Homo sapiens: one gene and its partners. The protein of the gene in region 1 purifies or fractionates together with the protein of each later gene. This does not show direct contact. Each region holds a gene or a part of one and is shown in the gene's direction. Other genes may lie near its edges.

Region 1 (3,500 bases):
TTGGAAGGGTTGGACCCACCTCCTTGTTTCAAACACTCTTTTTAAAATTGAGATCACTGGGATGGATGTCATACTTTTTATTCACGTTTCTAGGGAATTAACAAAGGATATTGATTGTGCATGTTAATAGTATATAATAATATATCATAGTCAATAATATTATATGTTTTAGATTGATAATAACTGTCAGTGATCTTCAAAAATAAAACGATAGTTGGTGCAGGTCCGTAATTCTTTTTCTGTTAAATATGTCTTAGAGCCAGATGTGTTTTATAATTCTGCATTTTTTTTGAGTTTTAGAAAAGGTACTTAGATGATTTTGTGTTTATATGTGCTAATGCTGTGGGACGGTATCTTAATATCTTTGTATCCCCAGAGTACGGTGCTTGGCATCTAATAGTTCTCAATAAATGTTTATCCCTCCATCTTAGTGTTCCTACTTACAAGAGAACAAAATATGCTGTCCTCCAGGCTGCTGGGAGCAGTGAATATTTTTAATTTTTTTTCAGAAGCTACCCTTGTCACGATTTTATTAATAACGCAACATAGTGGACCCCTGAGAGCCCCTGCAGACCACTGTCCTCCCGTTCTCACCCACCCCTCATTCACAGGCCCTGCTCCTAGCACAGAAGCAGTTGCTGGCTTGCCTTACAAGTGTGTCAGGGGAGCTGAGGCTTTCCACGCTCAGACTAGAATGCCCTTGGACATTGTCCACTTGCTTTCACAGCAGCTGGTGGCGGAGACTTTCAGGTGGCTTGTCGCATCTTGAGTGGGAGGGGCCTGTTGGATCACAGCACATCCTCCCCAGGTCCCATATAAGCCACATAATTTGTGTACTTCTGTTTCCTTCAGTCGTCCTCAAAAGAAACTGTAGGTCAAGGGTTGGCTAAACTTTTTCTGTGAAGAGCCAGATAGCAAGTAATTTCGACTTTGTGGGCTGCATACAATCCTGTCAAATATTCCTTGTAAAAATTTTCTTTTAACAATCGAGTAGAAATTTAAAAAACAGTCTTAGGTTGTGGGCAGATTTGGGCAGAAGGCCATTATTGTTTGCTGGCTCCTTCATTAGATCCAAACACAACATCGACTTCAGTTCCCTTTTGTTTTCATATTTTCAGATTGAAAGGGAATTCAACAGAACATCATACTACACTTCTTATATGACATGCCTGTGGCTCGAAATTCTTATTTTTCTTCAGTGTTTCGGGTGACACAGGCATTTAAATCTGACTGTTGAGGAAAGATAGGAAAGGCTACCTTCCTTGGAAAGTTGTAGTTACTGCCAGGCTGACTGGGACAGTCACTCCCTTGCCTTGACCTTTTGTCCCCACTATGAAGAACTTTAGAAGAATTGATGGAGAAGCACCCAGCACAGGCTCAGCTGTGTTGTTATTTGCAGACTCTGCCCAAAGGGTGGGCAGTGCTCAGCCACTCTGAGCTCTGAAAAGGCAACTAGCAACTTAAAAACCCTTATTTATTCAGGTCTACCATATTGCTAACAAAGACCATGCTTGTGCCTATGTAGGTGTTTGGCCTTGCAGACGTAGTTGCTGTTGTATAGGGCTGCTCTGTGGCTGGATGTTCATGAGTATAGGGTCAGGGTCAGTACCAGGCCTTCTCCTCCACATCCTACCACCTCCTGTTTTTTTGTTTGTTTGTTTGTTTGTTTGTGGGGGTGGGGAGCAGGGGTTATGGAGGAAGAGGGAAGCATAAAATGTAGCACCATGTCAGCTAATGCAGCATTCAAGTTAACAAATTAGACTACAAAATGATTGTTGGCATTAGTGCTGCAGCATGAGTTGTATATGCTTGAGGGGTGGATCCAAATATGTGCTTTTCACACTAAATGCATATGGATGGGAGCCTACGGGATGTAGTAAAGAATTATATTGGAAAATTAGCCTTCTCCCCTCACCCCCTTAGCTCTCGCCCTTGCTATTTCTGTTGTATAAGCCCACCTTTTTTTTTTTTGTTTTTTGTTTGTTGTTGTTCTTGTTGTTTTTATGAGACGGAATCCTGCTCTGTTGCCCAGGCTGGAGTGCAGTGGTGCTATCTCAGCTCACTGCAACCTCCGCCTGCTGGGTTCAAGCGATTCTTGTGCCTCAGCCTGCCGAGTAGCTGGGACTACAGGCGCGTGCCTCCACTCCCGTCGAATTGTTGTATTTTTAGTAGAGATGGGGTTTCACTGTGTTGGCCAAGCTGATCTCGAGCTCTTGGCCTAAAGTGCTGGGATTACAGGTGTAAGCCACCGCACCCTGCCAAAGCCCATCTTTTGTTTGTTTGTTTGTTTGTTTGTTTGAGATGGAGTCTCGCTCTGTCGCCAGGCTAGAGTGCTGTGGCGCGATCTCGGCTCACTGCAACCCCCAACTCCCTGGTTCAAGGGATTCTCCTGCCTCCACCTCCTGAGTAGCTGGGATTACAGGCATGTGCCACCATGCCTGGCTAATTTTTGTATTTTTAGTAGAGATGGGGTTTCACTGTGTTGGTCAGGATGGTCTCAATCTCCTGACCTCCTGATCCGCCCGCCTCGGCCTCCCAAAGTGCTGGGATTACAGGTGTGAGCCACCACACCCGGCCCAAAGCCCATCTTTTTAAAGACTTTCAAAACATTTGCCTGTTAGAGCTTGCAGCAAGCCAAGATCACGCCACTGCACTCCAGCCTATTCAACAAAGCAAGACTCTGTCTCAAAAAATAAAAAATAAAAAAAATTCACCCGTAAGCATGTAGTCACATGTACATATCATCATTTTAAAAAGTCAAATTTATAAATGATATAAAATGCTATAGAAATGTAGAATGGTGGTATTTCAGTGTTTTAGTAGTGACAGCTATTCACAGGGTCTTGCTCTGTCATCCAGGTTGGGCTCAAGTTATCCTCCCACCTTAGTCTCCTAAGTTGCTGCGTCTACAGCTGTGCACCACTATGCCTGGCTAATTTTTTATTTTTCGTAGAGACAGGGTCTCACTGTGTTGCCCGGGCTGGTCTTGATCTACTGGGCTTAAGCAATCCTCCCACCTTAGCCTCCCAAAGTGCTGGAATTAACAGGCGTGAGCAACTGCACCTGGTGCCAGATTTTTTATTTCTTGATCTGGGTGCTTATAACAGAGTTGTGGTTTTTTTGGTTTTTGGTTTTAATTCCAGTTAGAGTACTTTTTAAACATTATAATTTGTACTTCACTACAATTTATTTTTTTTAATTGAAAATAAAATTGCGTTAATTTTAAGCTGGGGGCAAGAAAACACAGCAGCCATGTCTATGTGACACCAGACAGAAAGGTCTGGAAACCTAAGTGTTAGAACCGCCAACACGTGCTGCCTCTGGGGAGTTTGAGGGAAGCATCTTACTTTTTATGTTTGCTTCATGTACATCTAGGCTATTTCAGTTTATATTCATTATTTTATACCTACAAATGGGAAAAAACCTCCCTAGTGGAGAGATCTTGGGGGCCTAGGAGGAAAGAGAGCCTTGCTGATTGAGAATCTTCACCCTCACCATTG
Region 2 (3,500 bases), on another chromosome or scaffold:
AAAACCCTACACCTCCCTCCCTTCACTTGTCTGTCCTCTTTTCTCCTCTTATTTTAAGTCTTCCAATCCTACTCTCCTTTGCTTATATTCCAAGCTGTTGGTTGGCTTCTTCATTCATCACCTCTTCCACACTCCTGCCAGAATTTCTCCCATCATTCAGACTTGATCATGTCATGCTCCTGCCCAAAATCCTCTGTAACTCTCTCTGCCCCTTAGGTTAAAATGAAGATTTTCCCAGTCTTCCCATACCAGGGTGGTACCAGGCAAAATTAGATGCTTTCTCACATGGGCCCAGTAGTCTCTGTACCTATGATAATTATATAAAATACTGGATTTTTATTATCTGTTGCCCATTTTGAACATAGAGCCCCCTTGAAACAGAGACCAATCATTGTTGTATCCCCTGTTTTGATTTAAGTAGAGGCTCAATTAGTGCTTGTTGAATGAATGCTCACTGAACCGACGATGCACTGTGGGTGATTTGTAAGAAATATCACACAGGTGTGAGTTTGGAATATCAGTTCAAATCCAGGCTCTTCTGCATACTAGGTCTCTGCCATCAGCAAGTAACCTAGTCTCTTCTGGCCTCAGTTTCTTCATCTCTAGAATAGGTTAATCACCTTCACCTCTCACACTGTGAGGATCAAAGGAGATTTTAAAAAGGTCCAGCATAGAGGCCAACCTGGGTTAGGTATTCAGTAAATTCAGGGGCTTTTTTCCTTTGTTTGTTTGTTAAGACTCTTATCACATCCTAAAACATTTTACCAGATACTGAGACCATATGACAAATGAACCCATTGGAGCAATGTTTCTCCCGTCTCCGCTGTTTTTACCTCACTTCCAACCAACCTACACCATGTAAGGAAGCTGGACTTTGCAAAACAGTGGTGGCACTCCTGTTGATTCTCTTCTGACTGTTGTTCACTTCTGTTTTTTAGACATTGTCAGAATGTTGCCAGAATCCCCCACCAGTTCGAGGGGAAGTCATAGCTCCCAGATTTGGGAGTTTATAGTGGCCCTGTCTTCACTCAGCTATGCTCCCAACTTGTTTTTCCCCACTAATCCAAGTAAAAAGAAAGCACAATTATTTCTTTGCAACTCTGATTTCTCCTTGTCACTTTTAAGGAATTTTCAGCCTCAGCTTTCTTTGCTTTTCTTTTTTGAGACAGGGTCTCACTCTGCCGTCCAAGCTGGAGCGCAGTGGCATGATCATAACTCACTGCAGGCTCAAGCGATCCTCCCCATCTCAGCCTCCCGAGTAGCTGGAATCACAGGCACACTCCACAACACCTGGCTAGTTTTTTTTTTTTTTTTATTTTTGTAGAGACAGGGTCTCGCTGTGTTGTCCAGGCTGGTCTCAAACTGTTGGGCTCAAGCAGTCCTCCCACCCCAGCCTCCTGAGTAGCTGGGACTACAGGTGTGAGTCACCATGCCTGGTCTAGCCTCAGCTTTCATACCCAGCGAGCCACCAAGGTTGATTAAGGTGAGAGGGACATTATAAACTCCAGATAGAGAATTCTGATTTTCCTGTAACCTCACATCTACTTCTCTGGTTTTTTTTTTTGTCTCTGAATTCAGAGTGGCCCCAGTTGCCTCCCTAGGGATGATAGGGGAACATGGCATTTCATAGGAGCCAATACTTTCAGCCCACAGCTGTCACCAGAACTTATATGCTTTCCTTTTTGGGCTGAGGGATACTTAGTGCCCTCTGTTAGACTCCCTGGGTACCATGTGACTAACCAGGAAGCCCATCAGACCCTCTGGAAAGACAGCCACAGAATGCACCCAAGACATGGCAGGTGGAGATGTCAAGTACCAGGATTGTAAGATTCCAGAGAATGATTGTAGTTATTTTGTTTGTTCATAATAAAATAAGTTTATAGTCAAAGACTTTAAAAATACAGAAAAACGCAAAATTATTTGCCCATTATCTCACCTCCAGACATACCCACTGTTAAACATTAAATTGAATGTCCCTTCAGTATTTTTATGCATATTTTTAACAAAATCGGGATCTCATTATATATACTATGTGTACCTTGATTTTTTTTAACTGAATAATACACCTTGAACATTTCTCCATGTCAAAGATTTTTCTAAAAGGGTAGTTCTAAGTCTTTTTTGCAACCTAGACACCTTTGAAAATCTGGTAACAAGTATATACTCTCACCAGTTTGGAAAAAATACCACTTAGTTGGCAAACTACATAGAATAATTTCTGTATCATTCCTGGGGTTCACAAATACTCTAAGCTCATCCCTGAATCCCAGGTTAAGAATCTTTACCCTAAAACATGACTTTTAATAACTACTTAAGATTCTCATATGTATAAATGTTGGCTAATGTGACCATTTGGATTACTTTCCATTCTTTTTTAAGTAGTACTTTAATGAAACGCCTTGTCAGTAAATCTTGCATAGCTCTCTGATTACTGTCTTAGGATAAATTCCTATTAGTGAAATTGCTGGGTCAAGAGCATGCCCACTTTGAATGCTTTTGAGACTGAGCTCCAGATCATTATTTGCTTATAATCTGTGAGTGATTGTTTTAAACCATTTCTAAGCATCATCTTGCTGTTCAGTCTTCTAATCTCCCTCTCTCTTCTTTCTCCATTGACACAGCTCCAACCAGGAGATTCAGACCTACGCCATTGCACTGATTAATGCACTTTTTCTGAAGGCTCCTGAGGACAAACGACAGGTCTGTGGCTGCCTTTTCACATTTTTCATCTGGGCTCTTCTGAGATAATTCTCACCCCATGCACTCTTTGCTATGCAGAGAGCACAAATCCAGCAATTTTCCCAAGAGTTCTTCCTCTTAGCTGTCTGGTCTGGAGCCCAGGAGGGTGGCTTTGCTAAGGAAGACCCAGGGAAGACCTATGAGGGGAAACCAGCTGGGTCTTAGATGAGAGCAGGGCCCTTCAAACTTTTTCCTCTAAAGGGCCAGAGAATAAATATGTTTGACTTTATGGGCCATATGGTCTATGTGATAGCTACTCAACCTTGCCATTGTAGCCAAAAGCAGCCTCGGCCAGTAGGTAAATGAATGGGTATGGCTGTCTTCCAATAAAATCTTATTTACAAAAACAGGCAACAGGCCTAATATGGCCATAGTTTGCCAACTCCTGGGTTACAGAATCAAGAATAAGGAAGAGGAGACCCTGTGGCTACCCTGAGTCCAAGGAGTCCAATATGAATGGGATTTCACACTAAATCTTAGGTTTAAAGGTTCTCTGATGGAGATTCTAAACATCTTCCTTCCCCTGTTCATTAACTGTGACATTATGCAGATAGCTCTGCCTCTGTGAACCTTAGTTTCCTCACCTGTCACATGGGAGCAACAACATCTGCCTTGTTTACCTCACAAGGATGTCTGAGGAAAAACAAGATCCCTGTTTCACAAATAAGGAAACTAAGAATCAGCTGGGTGGTGGAACAAACACTGACCTAAGAGCCGAGGGGCCTGGGACTAAGTATTCTCCCTGCTGCTGGCTGGACAAG
Region 3 (4,125 bases), on another chromosome or scaffold:
AGTCCAGGGGGCTTGGAAGGAAGAGGTGAGGACAGCAGAAAAGGAAACGCAAATTAAAAGAAGGGAACGAAGGCTGGGCGCGGTGGCTTACGCCTGTAAGTCCAGCACTTTGGGAGGCCGAGTCGGGAGGATCGCTTGAGGTCAGGAGTTCAAGACCAGCCTGGCCAACATGGTGAAACGCCGTCTCTACTAAAAATACAAAAAAATTAGCCAGGAGTGGTGGCAGGTGCCTGTCATCCCAGCTACTCCGCAGGCTGAGGTGGGAGGATCGCTTGAGCCCGGGAGGTGGGGGTTGCAGTGAGCCGAGATCGCGCCACTGCACTCCAGGCTGGGTGATAGAGTGAGACCCAGTCTCAAAAAAAGAGAAGGAAAAGAGAGAAGGGATGGTGGCGGTGGGGGAGGAAGGCGGTTCTTGTAATGATCCGAGAGGAGACCGCAGCACCGGTTACGCCCTCGAACCTCGGCCTCCTCATCTGCAGAATGGACGCAGTCCACACCGCGTGCTGTGGAAGGGTTGGAGCGCCGGTTTACATGACACAGGGCTATCGGCTAAGGGGGCGCTGGGAACGTGGAAGGTGCTCTATGGTGGGGCGCTGTAGGGTGCTCTTGGGCAGTAGGGTTGGAGTCAAATCTGGGTTGAAGTCCAACCTAGGTTGAAGTCCTGGCTGCCACCTGACCTCTGCCCCTCAGTTTGCTCATCAGTAAAATGGGGTTAAGGAGGCTGCCTCGCCCAGCTCCACGGAGCCGGAGGTGATGAAGGTCCTGGAAGAGCAGAATTCAGAACCCGAGCTTTGGGCGGCGGAGCAGGACAGGGCGCGGGTGGGCGCGGCCTCCGGGAGGCCAGCACGAGGGGGAGCGGCGGGGCCCGGACACACCCAGCCAGAAGGAGGAGGCCGACCCCGCGCCGACTCCGCAGATGCCGCTCGGGACTTCGTTGTCCCTCCAGGCGCCCGCCCTGGGGTCCTCCATCACCCGCCGTCACCTGGGCGCGGGGAAGCTGGCGGGAGGGGAGGCGGGGCTTGGCGGCAGCGGCGGGTGGGGGCCGGGGAGCGGGGGCAGGGGCGGGCGGACGGAGCGCGGGGCTGGGGACCCGGGGTCCCAGAAGGGGGCGCGGGGACGGGGTCCGAGGAGAGGGGGCCGGGGCGGGGCAGGGCGGACAGGGCTGGGGGCGGAGGTCCGGGGGTGGGTCCGGCGGCGAGTCCGGGTCGGGGCGGACAGAGCAGGGGGCGGGGGTCCGGGAGGAGGGGGCCGGGGTCCGGGAGGAGGGGGCGGGGCCCGGGGGCGGGGCCGGGGTCGGCGCCCTGCGGGGAGGCCGGCCACGTGACGCCCGCGGCCCGGCGGGGCTGCCAGGCGGCGAGCGCCGCGGCGGCCCCGGGAGGTGGCGGCGGGCGCGAGAGCCTGGGCCGCGCGGGACTGACCGTCGGGGCCCCGGGACGGCGGCCCCGGGGCGCCCATGCCATGGAGAAGCTGGCGGCCGGGCTGGCCGGCCTGCGCTGGAGCATGGGCGCCTTCCCGCTCGACCTCATCGTCAGCCGCTGCCGCCTGCCCACGCTCGCCTGCCTTGGGCCAGGTACCGGGGTCGCTGGAGATGGGGACCGGGGTCCGCGGGGAAATGGTGGGCTCTCCAGCCAGGGGCCAGAGGGATCGTGAGGAGGGTGCGGCACCCGCACCCTCCCAGCTCCCCGGCGTGGGCCCCGAGCGGTTCCTGGCGCGCCTCCCGGGAGACGCGGGGCCCACCCGCCAGGTCCGCCTCCTGGGCCCCGCGGACAAGCACAGGCACAGACACCGGGGACAGGGCCCGGGACAGAGTTTTCCCGCCCAGCTGGAGTCCGGAAAGGGGCCGAGCCCCTGCTCCCGCCCCGTCGGTTGCCCCCCTTTCCCCCGCTGCCCCTGGGCCCCCCGCCCCGGCCGCGCCCCCTTGGTCCCTTTGTCCCTGGCCTCTCACCTCTGTCTTCCCTCATCCCTGGGACCCGGACTCTGTCTTCCCCTTACCGCCACCCCTAGTCCTGCTCCGCCCCTCTGGGGACCCTTCTTGCACCTCCTTTCTCTTCCCTAGGAGCAGCCTCGGTCCTGGGGCGGGCAGGCCACCTTCGGGAGAGGCCGGCGGGAGCCGGGTCTGCTGCCCGGCGTGACCCCCAAACTCCCGGCCCTCCCCCGAATCTTGTCCCACTTCTTAATAGGACCTGGGGCCCCCAGCCGCTCGGCTGATGGAACCACGCATGGGGGCCCGAGAGGGTACGCCCGGAGGCTGCATGGAGCGAGGGGACCGTTTGGGGGGAGGGGGGTGCTGCTTGGTTGGGGGATGGGCGGTAGCCGGGGCTGGCAGCCAGGCCGGGGGTTTTGTGTGTGAGAAGAATAGGGGTTTGGCCCGCGTTGGCACACTCGCTTCCATGAATGCTAATGGGGCCCGCGGCCGCAGGCTCCTCGTCTCCCCGTGGGGCCCGGCAGCCCCTCCTCCGTGGCGGCCAGGAGTGGGCACAGTGGGCGTCAGCTGTCCCGGGAGCAGGCTCATGGGGGAGCATCGGCGCCCCGCCGTCGGGCAGGCCAGCGTCTAGTTCTCTGGCTCGCGGCCGAGTGGTCAGAGTGTGGTACTGTGTCTGCCTGTGAATGGAGGTCGCTGCCCTGGGGTCTTCTGGCCACTTCCCACACATCCTTTTTGGCATCTCCCCTTTCTGGGCAGCTTTTCTGAGCTCCTCGGTCTGCGTAGGGCCTCCTTTGGGCTCCCCGGCCACCTCATGCCAACTCTGGCTTGTCTCCTACTGTGCACCCCATTATAATGGTCAGTCAGTTTATTGTCTTTAGACCTGGCTGTGGGCTCCTTGAGACCAGGCATCCTTGCCCAATAAAGATTATGGATTGAATGAATGGGTGAGTGAATGAACAACTGGTGTGATGGCCCAGCTGTCTGTTGTGTGTGACAGTGTGTGGCTATGGCTGGGTCACCATCAGGGTGTGAATGTCTGGTCAGAATTGTATGGCTTGAAGGGTAGGTCCCTGTGTGCCTGTGCATTTGGGAGGGGCCCCTTGGCCGGAGACTGAGTTATGTTGTTTGGGTGACAAGCATCTGTCACTGTGGGCTATTGTGGTTCAGCTGTTGGTGGTCATGAGCCATGATTACTGCTGTGTGCCCATGTGGCTGTGAAGATGGGGCTAGGACCCAGGACAGCTCTCAGAGGAGGGAGCAGAGTTGGAGGAGAGCTTCTTGGGCCCCCGGAGGTGAGGAGGTACAGGGGAAAGCTTAGACAACACCCCCAACACACACATAGTGGGGGCCAGGCCCTTCCTGTGCGTCTTGAACCGCCCGCCACCCTGCCACACACACACACACACATACACACACACGCCTACCCCACATGTACACATTTTATGGAGCCCCCAGCCATCAGAGTAAACCATTTCCCATTTGATTGGCAGAAATTTTGTAAGTTGTGCCTGAAGGAGAAAGGAAGGAGGTACTCCCTACCCCCACCCTCCCCACCAGCTGCAGCCCGGACACAGCCCCTTCTGCCTCCTGGAAGCTGGGCTGCCCCTCCTGCTCCCCTGGAAACCGTTGCTGGGGTTGGCGCCTCCAGGCCCAGACCCCTCCCAACTCCCAACACCTCTGCCCCAGAGCAGCTTCCCCCAGGCCCCAGGGCTGGGCCTCCCACTCCTGCCTTCTAAACCTGCTCTCTCAACCCCTCCAACCCTCAGCCGTCACCCCTGTAACTGGGAGGATGAGGGGGCGTGGGGAGGGGGTGTCAAGGAGCTGCTTCTCTGAGATGGGGTTGGGGGTTTCTGGGGACTCCCCCCTCTCCTTCGAGGTCCCCTTGACAAGGCAGTGGGTGGCTTCTCTGAGATGGGGTTGGGGGTTTCTGGGGACTCCCCCCCTCTCCTTCGAGGTCCCCTGAACAAGGCAGTGGGTGGAAAGGAAGGGCTGCCCTTGGGAGAGGCAGTAATCAGCTGCTCTAAGCCCTGTCATTCTCCTGACCTGAGCGACCCGTGGCTCTGGGGGAGCTCTCACAGCTGGGACCTTATAAGGGACAGTCCCGTCCGGGCCCTCTCCACTGCCCCAGTAGGGCCCTTCTTGCAGGGCCTAGGCCCTGACTGGGAAGCACAGCTCCAGCATCTCCTGCTCAATAAAGTCTC
Region 4 (3,500 bases), on another chromosome or scaffold:
GAACCCTGTCTTAATGCTGCAACACTCATTCTTAAATGCTAGGCCACACTATGGGAGGTGAAAGGGTCAACAGGTTGGGTCTGAGAGGCCCACGTTTGTACCCTTAACCGTGTTAACTAACGATCGGCCACTGTACCTGGCTTGGCAGACACTTTGTTCAGTTGTTTGAGTGTTTTCACTCCATCTGAAATGTCCAGCAGCTGACCAGGGTGATGTTTCTGGAAGGTGTCGTTTCACATCCATCACATTATGAAATGGGAAACGAATTTGCTTCTTGACATTGCCCAGCACTAAATCTTTCCAGAGTGTTCAACTTGCATCTTTGTAAATTTTCTTTTTCTTTGTATTAGACGTGTGTCTTTTTTCAGTTGTGTGGTAGGAAGACCTTGCTCTGTTGGTGTGAGATCGAGGTGGCGTGGGTGATAGAACGCAGTCCCCGATTTGGGGGTAGCACCTCCACCTTTCCAGTGCACGTGAGGCTCCCTTATCCTCCTGCTGCTCCTCTTCGCAGCCCTGAGGGACGAGGGTGGGGACAGGGACCTTGGGTCTGTTTGGGGCCTGTAGGGTAGGTGACTGTGTCATCTGAAAAAGCCCACAGGAGGCGCTGCTCCCTCCCCTCCTGGTCAACAGTTGGTGATCTAAAGGAGTGCTTCTCAACCACGGCCCACACAGTCACTGGGTAGTGGCTCAAACCGGCAGGGCCCTGGCACCACCTGGACCCACTGGAGCAGCATCTTGGGGCAGGGGGGCGGGGAGTGAACAAGCATGGGTAATTTTTTCTTTTTCATTTTCTTTCTTTCTTTTCTTTTTCTTTTCTTTTTTTCTTTTTTTTTTTTTTTTTTTTTTGAGACAGTGTCTTGCTCTGTCACCCAGGCTGGAGTGCAGTAGCATGACCTCAGCTCACTGCAACTTCCACCTCCCAGGTTCAAGTGATTCTCCTGCCTCAGCCTCCTGAGTAGCTGGTACTACAGGCGTGCGCCACCACGCCCAGCTAATTTTTGTATTTTTAGTAGAGACGAAGTTTCACCATGTTGGCCAGGCTGGTCTAGAATTCCTGACCTCAAGTGATCCACCCACCTCAGCCTCCCAAAGGGGTGGGATTACAGGTGTGAGCCACGGCGCCCGGCCAGCATGGCTAATTTTTCAAAGTTCCCTAGTGATTCTAACGTGTAGCTAAAGTTGAGAATCAGGCCATCTAAATGGTTTGAGTCCCATAGAGCAGCACTTCTCAAATTATCAGGTGCACATGTCCCCTGGGGATCCTGATGAAATGCAGAATCTCATTCAGGAGGCCTGGGGCACAGACAGCCTGCGTTTCTAGGTCCCCAGGGATCCCCCGTTGATTCTTACAGGTCCCAGGGACCGGGGCGCAATGGGCTTTGGACAAACCCATCCCCACCTCCAAGCTCGTGGCAGGACAGATAACCAGAAAATGTTAAGGTGTTCCGAAAGGCCAAAGTGTGGCACTCCCCAGCCCCCATGATTCTCCCTAAAGGCCTGCATCTGAGCTTGGCACTGCTCCTTAGGAGGTGTCCTCTCCTGACTCTGCTCTGATGGCCTCTTTCCCCAGTGGGATCTCAGGAATCCCTGCTATCCCTGTTCTGTATAACCCAAGGGACACACACAAGGGCCAAGGACCCTGACGTGACCTCAGCAGCCTTCACTGTGTACTGTTCAAGGAGCTTGAAGTAGGGACAGGACAGGGAAGTGACACCCTGGGAACCCCTGAGAATGAGGGAGGTGTTTGTGCAGTGACCTAATACAGAGAACACAGAGTTGAAGAGGAGAGGAAGATAGCCTGAAACACCCCAGAAAGTTCTGTCCCCTGTTTAGCATTAAGAAAATTATGTTACATGTTAATGAATTACAATAATAACCAAATCCTCATAAGGAATCTGGTGAGAAGCTACTAATTTATACCCATACTCAGAGTTTTAAGGTCCCACAGGTGGTACCAGCAGAACTGAGCCTGTGAGCCCCAGCCCTGGAGCTCACTAACAGAAGTTATTAATTCCAGGGACTAAAGCCTACAGTGCTCCCTCTGTAAAGCCCAATTTTAACGCATTGCATGTTGGATTTCATTTTCGCAGAATATATTAATAAATGTGTACACTAAGACTACAGCCAAGGAGCAGGTAATGCTCAAAGGGTGGCGTGTGGCCACGTCTGTGTGCTGGGATTGCAGTCACTGTGCTTTGCTCATCGGTGCTGTTTATGTTTCCTGCAATATCTACACATTGCTTTTTGTTTTGTTTTGCCTTCTTTTGCATCCAGACGAATAATATTGCAAGTTATTTTTAAATTATTGTTTATTTAAGTACTGATGATTTGTGTTTAGAATCTAAACGGTAAACCTCCTGTGCTTACATCCAAAGTTAGATCTGCCTCCACTGGCCTCTTTGCCTTGAAGTCTTTCTGGAATAAATGCGGAATACTTGACTTACTATGACTGCAGCTGATCCCCCCGCAGGACTCACCCTCTGCACATGTCCCCAGAGCCTAAGCTGGATTTGTCCCATCCCACCTTCTCCTAGACTTCCTGGGATGATAGGGAGCCCTGTTTCCCCTCTCCCACCCCCCAAATCCACCAGCCTCACTCAGGGAACACTGTTCAGGCCTAATTTCCAGCTCCGGCTGAGAAAAGTTGGCCGCCAGAAGGAAAACTAACGACACTCAAAATTATGTAGGGACAGCTTTCTCATGCTTTAAAAATCCTTGGAAGATAACGTGATTGAAAACGACGACGTTCTTATTATACTTCCACGTGTGCGTTAGAAAAAGACCCACACTTTAAAAAAGAGTGTCTACTCTTGGGTGTTGGGGTAATGGTATTTTTAATTTTTTATTTGTGTACTAGGCACGCCTTTTCACACCCCCTACCTGTTGTGACTTGCGTGACCTCAGCTCATGTTTGTTTACAATGGTTAATCCTTTCAAAGCCCCTGGATGTGGGGGGCTTTGCCCAGCTGGTGTGAGGCTGGGGTCTGTGTGTGTCTGCCCTGCCGTGCGGCCCGCTGTGTGTTTGTGCAACACAATTGTGTCCCAGGAAGGTGTGTGACAATCTCAACCTCATTAGCACCAGCAGCAGTCAGCTCGCCTGCGGTGCAAGAGGAATGGTTGGAAAGCTTTGATGGGCGTAGAGTTTGCCAGCTGACAGAGCAGCTGTCAATGAGATGCTGGGCATGGGCTGCAGGACGCGCATTACTTTGACAAACATGTCATTAGATGTTCATTCTTCTGAGTATGTCTGACACCAGCCAGAGTGGAAAAACCAGTCCCGCCAGCCAAGGAGAGCTGTCCTGGAAAGTAGAGAAGTCAGGAAACTTCCACATAATTCAGGTGGAGAATACTTGGGAAGACTTCTGGATTGCGGAGGGTGGGTGGAACTTGAGCAGACATCACCCAGGCAGTGGCTCGCCCCCCCAGCTCTCTGTGAGTGGCCGTCGCTTCGGTCCTGAAAGCCCTGCCACAGTCACACACCTCTCAGAGCACTGCCCACC
Region 5 (3,500 bases), on another chromosome or scaffold:
TTTTTTTGGACACCAATGAATGAATTCGGATGTGAATATGTTTACTTCATTTAGCGGTTGCTGTAAAAGCTGATTTTTGGGTGACAGGTTTGAGATTGTTATGAATAAAATGAGTCATGAATGAACCACTTGTTTGTGATTTTCTTGCTGAAGTGATGAACTTGCATATTAATGTGATATAGCATGAGTAACCAGATTGTTCTTTTGGTGGTGCAGGATGAGATATATGCTGGCAATGAGAGGCAGCTTAAGATCTAATGAATAGAATTTGAGACCTATAATCTGAACATAGGGGTTTACTAGCTGGCTTGGGTCTGCCTACTGGTCTGATTTGTATACAGAAGAATTGAATTTATTCAACTATTTTCATTATACGTATACATATATTTATAGTGCAGTGGTGATGATAATAATGGTTAACATTTATAGAGTGCCTGTTATGTGTAGGTACTATTCTGGGTGCTTTTATATGAATAATCTCATTTAGTCCTCATACAACCCCAAAGAGGTAGGTACTCTTATGATTTCCATTTTACAGAAGAGGAAATCAAGATTTAGAGAGTTTGAGTAACTCACTCAAGGATAATTTAATTTAATATAAAAACAGTGGAGCTAAGATTCAACTAGAGGTGTTGATGACCATAACCCATGCTCTAGAACCTCTGTGCCATATTGCATCCTCCATGTTGAGGTTTACCATTTCCTCTGATAAATACTTTTAACTTCTGTCTTGCTCCCTATATAAATGTTACCTATATTAATAAGAAGCTGGCCAGGCACAGTACTCATGCTTATAACCCCAGTATTTGGGGAGGCCAAGGCGGGAGGATTGCTTGAGCCCAGGAGTTTGAGACCAGTCTGGGCAACGTAGTGAGATCTTGTCTCTACAGAAAAACCAAAAAATAATTAGCCAGGTATGGTGGAGCATGCCTGTAGTGCCAACTACTTGGGAGGCTGAGGTAGGAGGATCACTTGAGTCCAGGAGGTCAAAGCTGTAAGTGAGCCATGATTGTGCCACTGCACTCCGGCATGGCTGATAGAGCAAGACTCTGTCTCAAATAATAATAATAAACAAGAAGCTACTATGTTAATGATTTTATTAATATTTATTTACATATGTTTACCTTGCCTCATTTCACAGAAGATTTGAGGTGACCCCTTAGGCAGAAGCAACATTTATTAAAAGATAAGTATTTTTCTTTGCTATATTAGACATTCTTGAAGAGAGTTTTAAAATGTAATTGGATTGTTTATTTAAGTATGTTTTTAGAGTGCATATAACTCATTTATAGAGGTGTTAAGTGAAAACTGTACTAGTTGCTAATACGCAGATGTTTTAAAATGACACGCTTGTTAGAAATATTAGTTTTTCAATGCTAATTATATAGGCAGAAGAGTCCACATTATTTTATTCTAGTCTGAGTGGTAAATAGACTCTCAATTCTGCACAAATAGAAAAAGTTTTTTGATTAATGGGGACGAAATAAAATATTTTTAAAAAGTGATTATGCTGATATTTTTCAAGAAATTGCTTCTAAGTATTATAGTTATTAGATAAATGGTGCTTACAATTAAAATGTCATAATTATTGAGAACCATACTTCATAGTTCCCAAGGTCTATAAATAAAGTGTCAAAACATGAACTTTTCTTCATGCAACAATGAATTGGTAGAACTTGAAATCACAAAAATATTTTTGCTGAATTAACATTATATAATATACTTTTAGGTTATCACAAATTCACAGTTGGTGGTACTTAATTACTACCATCAAATGAATTCCTTTTTTATTAGTAATGTCTGAGAGCAATATAACTAAGATAACTAGACTGGATAGGATATCTCTGTTTTGGAATTTACTTATGATTAACAGTTATCCAAAAATGCACTTGATTTAACTTCTTTAAGAATGAAGTTGGGCAGTCACCCAGAACCTTGGAGGAATGGAAACTTAATGTTTAGCTGGATTAGAGGGTAGGCTATTGGGTTCTCTATCAATGGAGTATACATTTAGAGTGTTAGGTATTCTTCTTAGGTAGTACCTTTTGCTATGGCTAGTAAGTTAAATTATGAAGTTTTATTTATTATTGTCATTTATTTTAGAGGGACTTCAAGTATCTAGAAAGAAATAGATTATTTTTTTCCTCTGCTACCAGAGCCAAGTCAAGAGAGTCCCAAGCTCATATGCTATATAGAATGATCCAATTTAATTTTCTGCATGGCCAAAGTTTTGCAATTTATCCTAGTCCAAGTTTGCATTGCAGTTTCTCACACTCTCTGCATTGATTTAAAAATTCTTATGGATTATGTCATACTAAATACATTTTATAAAGTAGACGGAAAAAAGGGGCCAACATTTGCTTAGCCATTATGGGGTAGCAGACATGGATTCTGCTAGATACTTTTCATACCTTCTATTCCTTACCTGTTTCCATATCCCCATGTCAATAGGGGAGAAAATTCAGGGTTGGAGAGACAAGTCATTCACCCAGGATCGTATAGCTAGCAAGCAGCCAAGCTGGGATTCAGTATGACTCCTCCTGGAACTCTTGAGAAATATGGACACATAAAACCAATGAACATGTATTTATTGAGTTCTAAGTTTACTGGGTAAGAATATACAAGAAAATATGAATACATAGAAGCTTATGTATGTATAAAAAGAGAACTGACAGGATAAAGTATGAGACAACTTTCAAATGCACATGTAAAATGAAGGTAGTCAGATATAATGCAAACTAATCAGGATAAAAAATTATAGTATGTCAATTTATTTTTACAAAAATCCCTGAAAAACTACAGTTCTGAAATTGAACTGAATATAAGTGGAAAGTAGACAATATATGCATTTCCAGTGTCATCTGGCAGCCCATATCATTTTAGCTCAAGCCTGCATGTACTGAAGTATCTATGTCAAAGCAGGAAGGTGGTGATCTGTGTCTCAGTTTCTGAGTTGACAACAAGGCATTGAATTTAGACTGTGACTTTATCACAAAGAGATACTGTATATTGGAGAGGGCCCTAGAGAAGAGCAGCAAGGAAAAAAAAAGAGATTGGAGAGATTAAAAATATAACTGGATGCAGTGAAGGTTAATTGAGAGTGGGATGGATCAGATCAAGTATTTTATAAGGACTTCCAAGGCACTAATACTTAAGGGAGGTGAATTCTATTTTCCTTTTAAAGAATAAGTCATTTAGTTAAAGGAGTAGAATAAGTCAAAGACACAAATGTCAGGGAAAATGTCCTAAAGGCAAACCTGAAAATGGAATGAATTGTTTAGAATGGGAGGAGGGTAAAGGAGTTGACACTAAATGATTTGCATTTCATGAATTAAAAATCATTTCCAACAAATTAGAGGGTTCATTAATACCATATTAATTACTCTCTCTCTCTCTCTCTGTGTGTGTGTGTGTGTGTGTGTGTGTGTGTGTGTGATCATAGGTAGCTTAGCTTTTCTTCCTTTAATAGTAGCAAGACTGGCATTTGATGACATTATTAT
Region 6 (3,500 bases), on another chromosome or scaffold:
CAGGCATGTGAGGCACAGCCAGACACCCCTGGCTGGGGCCACAGCTGCTTCCCAGGATGCATATGGAGCCATCTCAGACCTGCTCATTGGACAGGCCAAGTGGGCGAGAGAACCAGAGCTTTCCCTCCAAATCTGCAAATGGTTTAGAGCATAACTTCCATCCTTTTCATATGCTAAAAAGAACAACTCTGCAATGGGACACCTATTTAAAAATTTTGATAAAATACACATAATATAAAATTCATCATTTTAACCATTTTAAAGTGTTCAATCAGTGCCAATTATTATATTCACAATGTTGTTGCAACAATCACCTCTATCTAGTTCCAGAACATTTACATCACCCCTAAAGGAAATCTCATACCCATTAGTAAGTCATTCCCCATTAGTCCCTGGCCCTTGCCAACCCAATCTACTTTCTGTCTCTCTGGATTTGCCTATTCTGTTATTTCAAAGAAATGGAATCATGCAATATATGGCCTTTTGTGGCTGGCTTCCTTCACTTAGCATAATGTTTTCAAGCTTCATAGATGTTGGAGCATGTATCAGTACTTCACTCCTTTTATCATTGAATATTTAATTGTATGGACACACCACGTTTTGTGTATTCTTTGTAGGGTAACATTTAAAGATCACTCACCTTGTGTCAACATGGTCCTTAAACTCAGTGATAGAAAGTGAAGGGCTCACTTTGTAAAAAATGCAAAATTTTTGTTTCACTTTTCACAAGGAGAAAGATTTATTAAGAATTCTGTTTCAGAGGATGATATGACTGAAGCTTGCTGTCTTCTAGAATGTGACAGAGTAAATTGAGTCCTGTGCTCAGGTCAGACGACCCACATTGAGTTCTGGTTCTGCAACCAGACAAATCGGGGAGCCTCTTTGAGGATGTTTGGTCATCTGTGAAATGGGGAGACAATACCTGGCTCCTTTTTTTTTTCTTGGTCGATTGTTGAAAGTTGAAATAATATATGCAGAACTCTTTAGTACAGATCGAGCATCCCTAATCCAAAAATCCCAAATCTGAAACTTTTTGAATGTCGACATGATGCCTCATGTGAATGATGAAGATGACGTTAACCCTGAAGAAAATGTGCCTCCAGGTGACATGGTGGAAATGTATGATGTGTTTACTGAAGGACAAGAGTAGCATACATTCATAACAGAACAAGAAATGATGTCAGTTTACAAAATCAGAGAGAGGCTTCTGAGACAAAAACCATTGTTGATGAAGCAGATGACTCTGGAGGAAACATTTTTAAAAGCCAGCTAGCAGAATGCTGCCTCAACTCTAGAGGACCTACTTCCTGGTCTCTCAGTGGTTTCTGATGTTTCTTCTCACCTAAAACAATGAGATCCAGTGTCCAGTAACCTTTAATCAAAACACAGCATCGCAGGAGACTGAAAGCCTGCCTTTGTTTGTTGCTGCCGTTGTCTAACAGCTGATCCGGGTATTCTGGTGATACTACTGTGTTGCTTAGTTACCTTGAACACATTATTTTTTTGCTGTGTTAATGGTATGCCATATTTTTAACTGCTAAGTACTTATGTGTGAAGAAGTGTAGGAAAATGATTGCTTATTGGTAGCATAGAAATTCAGTGTCAGGAATGATGGTAATGGACAAACCACAGATTGTCCACATGGGAGGCTGAGACGGTGACACCTTTGCTTTCTGATGGCTCCATGAACGCAAGCTTTGTTTTATGCACAAAATTATTTTAAAATATTGCATGAAATTAATATTTTATTAACTTCAGGCTGTGTGTAAAGGTACATATGAAACAAATACATTTCATGTTTAGACTTGGGTCCCATTCCCCAAGATATCGCATTATGTATATGTAAATATTTCAAAATTTTAAAAAAATCTGAAATACTTTGGTCCCAAGCATTTTGGATAAGGGATACTCACCCTGTAATGTAAGGTATTATTATGTCTTCCTATGTTTTGCTATGATGTGCGTGATGGTAATTCTTAAAGATAGTCCTAAAAATAGAATTATATCTCCTATCTGTAATTATAAATGTCAACACACAAGGATAGACAAATTTTTAAAGAAATATTTTCAACATTGAGAAATATTTTCAACATTGAGTACATTAAAAATTAGTTTCTGGTTAAACCCATGATCGAATTGGTTAAGCCTAATTAACAGGTAAATCAATTTCATTGAAACACTCACTTCCTAATCATTCTCATGAGTAAGTAATGTACAATATTAATACTCAGAATAATCTGGCCACTTTCATCCACCAGTGGGCACTGTGCCCTAATTTCTCTGTGCATATTAGCTTCAAGTTGTTAAATATTTTCTGCCAGGAATTCTTGTCTAAGCTGAGTATCTTCTCGTTTTCTGTAGTTGGTAATCACACATGTCTGGAAGGCTGGAGTTAGTGACACCTTTCCTCAGGGGCTCATGATCTTTCCGTTCCATAGATGAAAAGGTGCAGGGAGGTGCGAGGGGCTGGGGGCTTGAGGGCTGGAGAGACAGGAAGGAAACTGCCAGGGCACAGTCATGGCAGGCTTTACCTCCTGCCTGCTGTTCTGGTCAGCGCTCTGTGGACAAGAAGTTAAAATGACTGACTGAATTAAATCTGTGGGTTTTCTTTGTCTAGTCCTCCATAGCCAAGTTGAAAATAAGAGCAGCTCTACACCTACCACATTTGGGTTTTCTAATTCGAAGGTGCTGCCAGTTGCTCTGTTAGCATCTACAAAATGGCAGTGTTCAGGTCCCTTTGTTTTGGTCACTTTTCAGGGGAGCTGGGCACAGATGGTTAGTTCTTTGGTAGGACTGGAGAGGGCAGGGCATGTGAGTCTACAGGGTATCAAGGCAGAGGGTGCTTGGGGAGGATGCTGAGTGAAAGGATGACATTGGAGGTGGGAGAATGGGAAGGCTGACAAGGGCAGTGGTAGACCAGTGTTAGACCATGGTCTGAAATGAGACCTGGCTGCTCAGCTCTGCTCTCAAGTCCTTGCCTATTTGTGTCTTCTCTCTAAAGGTTCTAAAGGAACCAACAAAGAAGGAGGAGGTTCTGCAAACACACGAGGCGCGAGCACACCTCCCACCCTGGGAGATCTGTTTGCTGGTGGCTTTCCTGTATTGCGACCAGCAGGCCAGCGGGATGTAGCAGGTAAGGAAGAATTCATTCTGGCTCCCTTGTGGTCTGTATCTCCTTAACTTGTGGAACCATCTGGGCAATCCACACATGCCAGTAAGCAACATGGTTTTACTGAACGGGCATGATAGAGTAGAAGATCATGTTCTTGGGACCTTAAGCACTAGAAACTTCCAAAGTACAAAATGGTTCTTGAGAAATCTTTTAATTCATCATCCTGTTTAAATTATTCCATTGTAATAGCTTAAAAATGACTTGTAATAGTGTGTAATACTTAGTGATGGCGTGATGGTAGCCCAGACTGCAAAGTGTATATAAACAGAAGGTCCAAATTGTAATAGAACTTCATAGTGACATCACTGTGGATGCATTAGCAATGCAT
Region 7 (3,500 bases), on another chromosome or scaffold:
TATTGTTAACTATAGTCATCCTACAGTGGTATAAGAGAGTAGTAATACTTACATACTGTAAGTATTTACATAACTGTAATTTTGTATTCTTTAACAAATCTCTCCCTTTCGTCCCCTTTTCCCTGCCCTTCCCAGTTCCTAGTATCCTATGTTCTGCTTTTTACTTCTATGAGATCAACTTTTTTTTTTAGCTTCCACATGAGTAAGATCATGCGGTGTTTAACTTTCTGTTTTGGCTTATTTCACTTAACATAATGTCCTCCAGTTCCCAGTTACTTCTGAATAATACCTCTAGCAACATTTCACAAAATACTTTAGAAAAAACTTACAATCTTAGAAAATGATATTTGTCTTTGCAGCTTTTTTATGTGTCTTTGAAAAAATTATTATATTTTAGGATTGATTCATTTGTAAAATGAATAGTTCTGATTCTAAACTTTTCTGTTTTTAGCTCAACTCTGAAAGCAAAAATTCCACCTCCTTTGCCACCAAAGGTAGACAGATTTATTTTTCAATTTGATATATGTGTGTTATTGTTCTGCCAATTTAATACTTTGTTGAGAGTTTTTCTAGCTTTTCATTTGTGATCCACAAAGAAAAATCATGAAGTTGATATAAGTAAATGATTTTTTATTATGTTTGTCTCATTTTATAATGCCCAACTTATATTTAGTGTTCTTTTTTTTTTTTTTTTTTTTTTTGAGACAGTCTCACTCTGTCACCCAGGCTGGAGTACAGTGGCATGATCTCGGTTCACTGCAGCCTCCTCCTCTCGGGTTCAAGCAATTCTCCTGCCTCAGCCTCCCCAGTAGCTGGGATTACAGGCACCCACCACCAGGTCCAGCTAAAGTTTTGTATTTTTTAGTAGAGACTGGGTTTTGCCATGTTGGCCAGGCTTGGCTCAAACTCCTGACCTCAGGTGATCTGCCTGCCTTGGCCTCCCAAAGTTGTGGGATTACAGGCATGAGTCACTGTGCCTGGCCTTATTTAATGTTCATTCTAAGTAACAAGTCCTAGGAATTTACACTGAAAATGATTGTATTAATGGATTAGTGTTATTTGACTTGGGTTAGAAAACTCACATTTCTTACAAGATTGTTTTTCTCAAAATCTGCAACCTATTCCTGACTTCTAAGAATGAATAAAGGATAGTAATTTATCATCATAGATATTTAATTTTCAAAAGATAATTTTAATTAAAAATACAAAATAGTACAATTTTTAAATGCTTTTTAACAACAAAATTATTTTTCCAAACAAAATCATTCTAAAATAGTAATTTCAACTGATGGGTTGTTTTTTTTAAAGGTAAAATGAGCTAATATATACTTTATAAGTTCATATGCATAGCAAATTTTAATTATAATATGAGTTGCTTTAAAGTTTAAAATCAAAGTGTTACAAATGAGAGTTGGAGTCTTATCAGTCTTGTCATTCGGTTTATTACTATTTTTATTTATTTTCATTTTATACAATTGAGAAAATCCTGATTCATGCAAGTAAATAATGCTGTACTTGCTTGTTTAGTTTTATCATAGCAGAAGTAAAGAGATCTGAATTTCAAAGAAATAAGTGCTGAGCAATAATAAGAGACACGTTATAAATTCTACAAACCGTCAGCCAACTGTAGATTTTTCCATTGTTTGTACAGAAAGTGTCTCAGGCATCCCATATTGCTATGTTTGTATTCTCCAACATGATAACGTTTTTTGTTTTTTTGTTTTGTTTTGTTTTGAGATGGAGTCTCGCTCTTTCGCCCAGGCTGGACTGCAGTGGCGCTATCTTGGCTCACTGCAAGCTACGCCTCCCGGATTCATGCCATTCTCCTGCCTCAGCCTCCTGAGTAGCTGGGACTACAGGCACCCGCCACCACGCCCAGCTAATTTTTTGTATTTTTAGTAGAGACGGGGTTTCACCATGATAGCCAGGATGATCTCGATCTCCTGACCTCGTGATCCGCTCGCCTCAGCCTCCCAAAGTGCTGGGATTAGAGGCGTGAGCCACCGCACCCGGCCACATGATAACATTTTAATTGGTATCCTCTCATGCCCCTGGTCTGAAAGATTAAGCATTACCATAAAGACATTGAGTCATCTAAGAGACAGCTTAGATTAGCCTTGATACGGAGCTGAACTTTGACTAGTCTGAATATTTGAAATAAAAAGAGATTGATTTAAATTGAAGGAGATAAGAAAGACTAAAATATTTTTATTTGGCTAGTCTAAGTGGGGAGACTTGTGAGGAATTAATAAAAAAGTCGACTTAGAGGCCCTTTTATTTGCACAGCAGCAAAACCTGAGATGTACACATTTTAGTGTACATTTTTAGAATATATTTAAAACAATAAGATAGTCTGAATTGGATGGTTGAGTAACCTTTAAACTCATCTGGTAAACCTCTAATGTATAGTAGAAATAATTTGAAAGCTTTTAATGTATAATAGTACTTACTTCAGGAAAATAATTTGATGTTTCATTGTTGGTCTCTTTTTCTATATTATTTCAGCCTAAGTCTATCTTCATACCACAGGAAATGCATTCTACTGAGGATGAAAATCAAGGAACAATCAAGAGATGTCCCATGTCAGGGAGCCCAGCAAAGCCATCCCAAGTTCCACCTAGACCACCACCTCCCAGATTACCCCCACACAAACCTGTTGCCTTAGGTAATGGTGGAGGGTGACAGCAAATATGTTACCAGGTTTTCATACTATGGGGAGAAAAAAAACTTTCTTTTAAGAGATTATTTGAAATTCTTTTGGTGGAGGACAGAAGGAAAGCAGTGGCTATGGAGATGTTTTCTGCTTTTTGCCTACTAGCTTAAAGTGTTTTTATGACAGGATTCCCTATGACACAGTCTGAGATATTTTGTCCTCATTTCTCATTTCATATTTAGCCTTCTCTCTTCTAGAGACTGGTTCCCCATTCATTTAGCTACGGTGTGGAAACAATGCAAATTAAACTATGAACAAACATGGAAAATGTGTTTTGCGTCTAGGTTACTTCTGTTTTAGAAGAGAGTACCTTGTCCTAACTCCTTATTTCATTTAATCATTTCTAAAAAAATAATTGGTATTATTTGCTAGGTATTTGCCTCCAAATTAATACTAGAAGGTGCTATTTTAACACTGTAAAGACTCCTCTGTGTTTATCCAGAAGAAGCAATTTTAAAAAAGAGCAACTAGGCTGGGCATGGTGGCTCACACCTGTAATCCCAGCACTTTGGGAGGCCGAGGCAGGTGGATCACCTGAGGTCAAGAGTTTGAGACCAGCCTGACCAACATGGTGAAACTCCATCTCTACTAAAAAAAAAAATACAAAATTAGCTGGGCGTGGTAGCGCATGCCTGTAATCCCAGCTACTTGGGAGACTAAGGCAGGAGAATCGCTTGCTTGAACCTGGGAGGCGGAGTTTGCACTGAGCCAAGATCACGCCATTGCACTCTAGCCTGGGTGATAAGAGCAAAACTCCTTCTCAAAAAAAAAAAAGAGCAACTAAAGT

Evidence for each region.
Region 2: the proteins of GRB2 (region 1) and ELMO2 purify together in Homo sapiens (co-immunoprecipitation; 5 studies listed by BioGRID and IntAct, with this or other methods). This does not show direct contact.
Region 3: the proteins of GRB2 (region 1) and GAREM2 purify together in Homo sapiens (co-immunoprecipitation; 5 studies listed by BioGRID and IntAct, with this or other methods). This does not show direct contact.
Region 4: the proteins of GRB2 (region 1) and LRRK1 purify together in Homo sapiens (affinity purification with mass spectrometry; 4 studies listed by BioGRID and IntAct, with this or other methods). This does not show direct contact.
Region 5: the proteins of GRB2 (region 1) and DNM3 purify together in Homo sapiens (affinity purification with mass spectrometry; 6 studies listed by BioGRID and IntAct, with this or other methods). This does not show direct contact.
Region 6: the proteins of GRB2 (region 1) and WIPF3 purify together in Homo sapiens (affinity purification with mass spectrometry; 4 studies listed by BioGRID and IntAct, with this or other methods). This does not show direct contact.
Region 7: the proteins of GRB2 (region 1) and MAP4K3 purify together in Homo sapiens (affinity purification with mass spectrometry; 4 studies listed by BioGRID and IntAct, with this or other methods). This does not show direct contact.

What each region holds. Positions count from the first base shown.
Region 1 is NC_000017.11:75,329,179-75,332,678, reverse strand, and holds part of GRB2 (growth factor receptor-bound protein 2), read left to right. Parts: intron 1-3,500. UniProt on the Homo sapiens protein: Non-enzymatic adapter protein that plays a pivotal role in precisely regulated signaling cascades from cell surface receptors to cellular responses, including signaling transduction and gene expression.
Region 2 is NC_000020.11:46,382,616-46,386,115, reverse strand, and holds part of ELMO2 (engulfment and cell motility protein 2), read left to right. Parts: intron 1-2,621; coding exon 2,622-2,700; intron 2,701-3,500. UniProt on the Homo sapiens protein: Involved in cytoskeletal rearrangements required for phagocytosis of apoptotic cells and cell motility. Acts in association with DOCK1 and CRK. Was initially proposed to be required in complex with DOCK1 to activate Rac Rho small GTPases.
Region 3 is NC_000002.12:26,171,763-26,175,887, forward strand, and holds the start of GAREM2 (GRB2-associated and regulator of MAPK protein 2), read left to right. Parts: upstream 1-1,325; 5' UTR 1,326-1,458; coding exon 1,459-1,570; intron 1,571-2,099; exon of another isoform or gene 2,100-2,235; intron 2,236-2,532; exon of another isoform or gene 2,533-3,110; coding exon of another isoform or gene 3,111-3,216; intron 3,217-4,125. UniProt on the Homo sapiens protein: Probable adapter protein that may provide a link between cell surface epidermal growth factor receptor and the MAPK/ERK signaling pathway.
Region 4 is NC_000015.10:100,925,857-100,929,356, forward strand, and holds part of LRRK1 (leucine-rich repeat serine/threonine-protein kinase 1), read left to right. Parts: intron 1-3,500.
Region 5 is NC_000001.11:171,844,498-171,847,997, forward strand, and holds part of DNM3 (dynamin-3), read left to right. Parts: intron 1-3,500. UniProt on the Homo sapiens protein: Microtubule-associated force-producing protein involved in producing microtubule bundles and able to bind and hydrolyze GTP. Most probably involved in vesicular trafficking processes, in particular endocytosis.
Region 6 is NC_000007.14:29,876,008-29,879,507, forward strand, and holds part of WIPF3 (WAS/WASL-interacting protein family member 3), read left to right. Parts: intron 1-3,001; coding exon 3,002-3,133; intron 3,134-3,500. UniProt on the Homo sapiens protein: May be a regulator of cytoskeletal organization. May have a role in spermatogenesis.
Region 7 is NC_000002.12:39,287,286-39,290,785, reverse strand, and holds part of MAP4K3 (mitogen-activated protein kinase kinase kinase kinase 3), read left to right. Parts: intron 1-451; coding exon 452-494; intron 495-2,505; coding exon 2,506-2,665; intron 2,666-3,500. UniProt on the Homo sapiens protein: Serine/threonine kinase that plays a role in the response to environmental stress. Appears to act upstream of the JUN N-terminal pathway.